Linked DNA regions of Homo sapiens: region 1 is reported to be linked to region 2. Evidence: microRNA targets listed by miRTarBase, many of them from high-throughput screens and not tested one by one. Region 2 holds a microRNA gene; the other region holds the end of a gene's coding sequence.

Region 1 (3,417 bases), not on the chromosome of region 2:
GGTGCTTGCCACCATACCTGGCTAATTTTTTGCAGAGATAGGGTCTCACTTTGTTTCCCAGACTGGTCTCAAACTCCCCTGGGCTCAAGCGATCTCTGGCCTCTGCCTCCTGAAGTGCTGGGATTACAGGTATAAGTGACCATGCCCAGCCTCTCTGCTACTTTTTTTTTTTTTGAGATGGAGTCTTGCTCTGTCACCCAGGCTGAAGTGCAGTGGCGCAATCTTGGCTTGCAACCTCTGCCTCCTGGGTTCAAGTGATTCTCTTGCCTCAGCCTCCCGAGTAGCTGGGATTACAGGCACCCGCCACCACTCCCAGCTAATTTTTGTATTTTTAGTAGAGACAGGGTTTCACCATGTTGGCCAGGCTGGTCTCGAACTCCTGACCTCAAACAATCCACCTGCCTGGGCCTCCCAAAGTGCTGGGATTACAGGCGTGAGCCACCGCGCTCAGCCTCTTGTATTTCTAAGCTACTAGATGGGGTTTTAGTAACTAGTTTACAAAATAGGACAGATAGGACACAAATAACTATTTGTGACTATTGCTGCATTTATGGCCTGGGATAAGCCCTGATTTCTTTGATTAGTCCTCATTCTGTCAATGACCTCCCCTCTCTGTTCTTCAGGGTTAAAGCACGAATTGGGAGCTCTCAGCGACATCACCAGTCAGCAGCCAAAGACCTAACTCAGTCCCCTGAGGTCTCCCCAACAACCATCCAGGTGACATACCTCCCCTCCAGTCAGAAGAGTAAACGTGCCAAGCACTTCCTTGAATTGAAGAGCTTTAAGGATAACTATAACACATTGGAGAGTACTCTGTGACGGAGCTGAAGGACTCTTGCCGTAGATTAAGCCAGTCAGTTGCAATGTGCAAGACAGGCTGCTTGCCGGGCCGCCCTCGGAACATCTGGCCCAGCAGGCCCAGACTGTATCCATCCAAGTTCCCGTTGTATCCAGAGTTCTTAGAGCTTGTGTCTAAAGGGTAATTCCCCAACCCTTCCTTATGAGCATTTTTAGAACATTGGCTAAGACTATTTTCCCCCAGTAGCGCTTTTTTCTGGATTTGCATTCAGGTGTTATTCTTAATGTTTCTGTCAAAGCTTCTTAAAAATCTTCACTTGGTTTCAGCCATAGTTCACCTTCCCTGTTCCAGGTTTATTTAATTCCAAAGGTGAGAGTTGGAGTGAGATGTCTTCCATATCTATACCTTTGTGCACAGTTGAATGGGAACTGTTTGGGTTTAGGGCATCTTAGAGTTGATTGATGGAAAAAGCAGACAGGAACTGGTGGGAGGTCAAGTGGGGAAGTTGGTGAATGTGGAATAACTTACCTTTGTGCTCCACTTAAACCAGATGTGTTGCAGCTTTCCTGACATGCAAGGATCTACTTTAATTCCACACTCTCATTAATAAATTGAATAAAAGGGAATGTTTTGGCACCTGATATAATCTGCCAGGCTATGTGACAGTAGGAAGGAATGGTTTCCCCTAACAAGCCCAATGCACTGGTCTGACTTTATAAATTATTTAATAAAATGAACTATTATCAAATAAAACGTATGAATCAGTCCTTTATAGTTGTCTTTTAATAAAACAGGCATTTGATAATGTTATCTGCACATTTCTAACAGGGTATAGGGCATGAGGATTTGCCTCCAGAGAATTGGTGGGACTGTGTGCATACCCTGGACCTACGACCATACACATACTCCTTGGGACCCTAGCACAAGAAATCCTAAAATCAGGACTGTGGCCCTTGCTCATAGATGCCTGTGTCACCAACAGAAGGCTGCAGAACAAGGATTCTCTCAAGGTTTCTGGGGCAACAGGCCAGGTGGCCAATCAACTCCTAGGCCCAGGGTTATTGTTGGAGGTGTAAATGTTACTATGACTACTGAAACCTTGGTTACTGAACTAAACAGAGGAGCCTGTCAGTCTCCTCAGACTGTATCAAGCAAATCTATAGACATGTCTGTGGAAAAGATGACAAAAGTAGAAGAGGTATGCAGAGTTGGAAGGAGGGGCTGGGTTGAAGTTTGATGAAGTTTCCAGATCAATTTACTATAAGTGCATCTTTTACTGGGAAAGGCTTTTGATGTAACAAGGGTATAATGTAGTTAGTAACAGGAGTGGGAGGCTGTGTCTAGTACACAGTAGGTATTCAAATATGTGTTCTATCCAACCCCTGCGTGTTTTCTTTGATCCATTCTGAAAGTAGAGCTTTCCTCTCCCTATTTCCCCCCAGGAAATTGCTTTCTCAAAAAGGTCTATGTGGCTGGGTGCGGTGACTCACGCCTGTAATCCTATCACTTTGGGAGGCTGAGGTGGGCGGATCACCTGAGGTCAGGAGTTCGAGACTAGCCTGACCAACATGGAGAAACCCCATCTCTACTAAAAATACAAAATTAGCCCGGCATGGTGGTGCATTCCTATAATCTCAGCTACTCGGAGGCTGAGGCAGGAGAATCGCTTGAACCCGGGAGGCGGAGATTGCGGTGAGCCGAGATCACGCCACTGCACTCTGGCCTGGGCAACAAGAGCAAAACTCTGTCTCAAAAAAAAAAAAGGTCTATGTCTCTCATTAGAATAGAGGTTCTGGAGACTGAGGCAGATCAACAGAACTACCTTTTCTTGCAGAGTTTTCAAAAGGCCATGGGACTTAAGAAGACGGTCGACAGGTAATCTGCTTCTATCCCCTCCCTTTACCTTTGAGCTTGACCTTTCCACTCTGCTGTCTTCCCTGAGCCACCTCCCAACTCTGCTGCATCTCTTTAGGGGCTCATCAAGAGGAAAACAGATGCGGAAGGGGTGAGAAGCAGCCTTGTCCTCAAAGCAAATGAGATCAGCCTCTTAGTGCCTACTAGGTTAGGTGATATAGATTGGTTTTTATTGTCCCCTGCCTCATTCTCTGGAGAAAAATTGAAGCATGTTTTTATTTTCTTTTTTTATCAAGAATTCAAGTATTTGTTGCCTGGCTTTGTACTAATTATGTGGTTGGTAGTGCAGTATTTGTTGAACCAGTGAATGAGAAGATTCACAAGACTGGGCTACGTATCCTTTTCACCCTGATGAACTTTTGAAAAAACTGATGCAGCCGGGCGCGGTGGCTCACGCCTGTAATCCTAGCACTTTGGGAGGCTGAGGCAGGAGGATTGCCTGAGCTCAGGAGTTCAAGACCAGCCTAGGCAACATGGTGAAACCCTGTCTCTACTAAAATACAAAAGAAGTTAGCCAGGCATGGTAGTGTGCGCCTGTAGTCCCAGCTACTCGGGAGGCTGAGGCAGGAGAATTGCTTGAACTTAGGATGCGGAGGGTGCAGTGAGCCAAGATCGCACCACTGCACTCCAGCACTCCAGCCTGGGTGACAGAGCAAGACTCCGTCTCTACAAAAAAAAAAAAAAAAACACTGATGCAAGCCTGG
Region 2 (3,417 bases):
CCGTGTACTTTATTCTAACTAGCATTCCGTGTCATATAAGAAGCCTCCCTTATTTCTAATCATTAATCACTCTTAAAGATATATGTGTTTCATTGTTTTCATTTAAAGTGAATGTAAAATACATTTAAGTAGAGATGTAGAGACTGACAATATCCAATTCTACTTTTTATGGTTCGAGGATTCGTTATCATCAGTCAATTGAAGAAAATACTACTTCCAGTATTAGACTGCTAAAATGATTATCATTAAAGATAAATAGATTATGAATGGAAAATACCTTTCATATATTAAGTATTATATAAATATGTGTCGAACAAAAAATGTATGAAAATTTATATTTCAATGATGATTATATTTACTTTGTAATTACTATTATTTCACTATTATAGTATAGCACAATTTCTTCAAATGTCAATTTTGAAAGTTATAAAGTTCTATAAAGCAATCTTACTTCCTGGCTTAACCTTAACCTGTAATATACTTCAAACTCAAGGACAGAAAGATTGTAAAATACAGTAATAATATATTAATCTTCTTACATCTATTCATACTTTTACAAAAATTTTCCAGGCAGCATTACACAAGGTTAAATACAAAGTTAAAAATCAAGAATCTCAGTCCCTTTACCGCTGTTTATTTTTGCCAATGGAGTATATATTTTATCACTGCAACATTATAATCTGTGAACAACACATGGCTTAAACATTATGTTGTGTTGTTTAGAAGAAATGGCCTGAGAAAAGTAGCTTGCATTTCAAAATCTTTAAATTTCAAAACATTACCACTGTGTTCTACCTTGAGGAGTTTAAAATTTCACAGTCCCACTGATCTGAGAGTCCTCAATGCATTGATTACAACCAGCGGGTCCATCTTCTATCCCAACGAAATTAATCATGGTAACAGTTGCCACTATGGCCTCCTCCCTGCATTTTCCAAGCATGGAGGAGGACAAGTGAGCACCTGCCTCCTAGATTTTAGATTGAAAATATCACCCGAACACACCAGGATTCTTTATACTATGGCAGAGTATAACCTTCTGAAAAAGGCCAAGAGTCTCCTAATGAGCACATCCATACATTGATCATGATGTTTTCCTTTAAAAACCAAGTTCCTCCAAGAATTTGTAAATGGAATTTAGCAATATTTACAATTTACTCATCAATAAATGGCATTTGAAATATTTATTTCACATTGTTTTGTCACATAGTTTAAAAATTTGATCAAAATATTTATAGAACTACTTTTTGTAATAGGAGAAGCCCTTTTTCTTTTAATAATAAAAATAATGTGCCAAGTAAAATATTCATTTATGAAACTGCTCAAGCAAAAGTAAAACCAGAAATATTCGAGATCATTAAGGTTATCCATTCTTCTTGTAGAATATTACTGAAACCTACAAAAGTATTACAAGACACATGCACATGTATGTTTATTGCGGCATTATTCACAATAACAGACTTGGAACCAATCCAAATGTCCAACAATGATAGACTGGATTAAGAAAATGTGGCACATATACACCATGGAATACTATGCAGCCATAAAAAATGATGAGTTCATGTCCTTTGTAGGGACATGGATGAAATTGGAAATCATCATTCTCAGTAAACTATCACAAGAACAAAAAACCAAACACTGCATGTTCTCACTCATAGGTGGGAATTGAACAATGAGAACACATGGACACAGGAAGGGGAATATCACACTCTGGGGACTGTGGTGGGGTGGGGGGAGGGGGGAGGGATAGCATTGGGAGATATACCTAATGCTAGATGACGAGCTAGTGGGTGCAGTGCACCAGCATGTCACATGTATACATATGTAACTAACCTGCACAATGTGCACATGTACCCTAAAACTTAAAGTATAATAATAAAAGAAAAAAATAATAAATAAATAAATAAATAAACGTATTACATAATGGTCAAAAACATATTACAAATTATCACTTTAAGAAGGTTTAAAATTGTACAAGGATTCCATTTACAACATATTTGATCTATATGCTTGCTAACCTAAAGATCTTGGTTATATAACATCTCATACCTCTGCATTTCAAAGATGGACAGTGACAGACATTGTTAAATTCCTGTTTGAAGGTATTAAAAATGACAGACTTTGTTTCTAAATTATGAATTTCCACATTATATTGAACTCTCGGGCTATTTTGTTGCTCGCTCTCAATTTGTGTTTACTACATTGTTTGGGGCATGAGTAGGTTTTCACTAGCTCATCTGAGAGGAAACTCCCTGTTTCTGAAATTCTTTAAGTAGGTTTGTTTGGAAAAATCAGCGAAGCATTCTGTTTAACCTGAGTCATTTCTTTCTACATTAAGCAAAGTTGCCTAGTAGTTAGGCAAAGAGCCCAGTCAGTTACCCTGAACCACAATGGATGCAGATCTATTTTCTTATTATTTCTGTCCCTGAAAAGTTTCATAGCTCCTCAGGGAAAAAAGACATACCCACCATCTTGTAGGTCTCAATTAAGCTTCCTTTCTTTTAGGTTTACACTCACTCTCCCTTAGCGAATTTTGCTTTTTTTTCAATTGCAAAAAACGAAGCCTTCCCATTGCCTGTTTAAAACCCAGTTTGCCTTGCTCAATGTCATGGCTTTTCAGGTTTTCTAAGACTGGTTACTCACTCTGCACGTCAGTGTGAGTTTGCATTTTAATTTTCCTTCCTGCACCTGATCCTTTACAATGACTCTGTAAGGTGTCAATAATCTCTGAAAGTTCTGGGATGAGGCACAGAATTTGGATCATGCTCTTATTTTGCCACAGTGGTAATTAAACACTAACACATACCGACACACATACACGATGAGTAGAGGTTTACGTTGTGTTTGCTTCTAGACCCTGAAATAATTGAGCTCATTTTCAAAATAAATAATCTACTTTCAAATTTGGTCTTTATTTTACACATACACTTAGTCAGAGATGTCTGCAGCTTAATATTTCAGCACATTGTCAAGCAATTCCATATGCTTTTTTCTTTTCCTCTTCCTACTTCTCCTTGTTTAGTCAGAAGTTTTCAAAGTTTTGAGTGCTTTATAGATTGAGGGTGTAGAATATTCTAATATGACTGGCAGAATAAAACAAAGACTGATTTATATTTCTCATGCAGTATATTTGAAAAGACAGATTCCCAACCATTTGCTTACAACTCTATTTCCAGCTCCTATTGGTTAGTTTTCAGTTGTTCATATCTCTGATTTAACACTTTTAAAAGTGCCTCTGTATATTTACAGGCTTAAACCTACAAGATTATGTATTTCTGAAAAAAAAATACACTTAAAAAATGTCAACAGATCTATGTGGAAAGCTAGTAGAAATTTCTTAACACTTAAAATTCACTTATTTTTTTAAAAAATTAGTAAACGGTACTGACTATGAATATTTTCCTGAAAGGACTTCAGTTT

The links. Region 2 holds the annotated microRNA hsa-miR-764 (GCAGGUGCUCACUUGUCCUCCU, at 943-964, opposite strand). A microRNA usually pairs through its seed, bases 2 to 8, with sites in the 3' UTR of a target mRNA and lowers its output. Matches are read on the target gene's strand: a 7mer-m8 pairs with bases 2 to 8, a 7mer-A1 pairs with bases 2 to 7 and ends in A, and an 8mer does both.
Region 1: miRTarBase lists LTAP1 as a target of hsa-miR-764. Seed matches in the 3' UTR shown: 8mer at 1,433-1,440.

The regions. Positions count from the first base shown.
Region 1 is chr1:154,204,855-154,208,271 of GRCh38, reverse strand. It overlaps LTAP1 (lipid transport auxiliary protein 1), which reads left to right. Exons shown (of 7, transcript NM_001098616.3): 7 at 624-1,552. The coding sequence ends at 819. CFAP141 (cilia and flagella associated protein 141) reads left to right here and starts at 1,939. Exons shown (of 4, transcript NM_001010979.3): 1 at 1,939-1,997; 2 at 2,634-2,674. The coding sequence starts at 1,965.
Region 2 is chrX:114,636,992-114,640,408 of GRCh38, reverse strand. MIR764 (microRNA 764) reads right to left here and starts at 974; the gene lies at 890-974. The region is part of intron 2 of HTR2C (5-hydroxytryptamine receptor 2C); the gene reads right to left.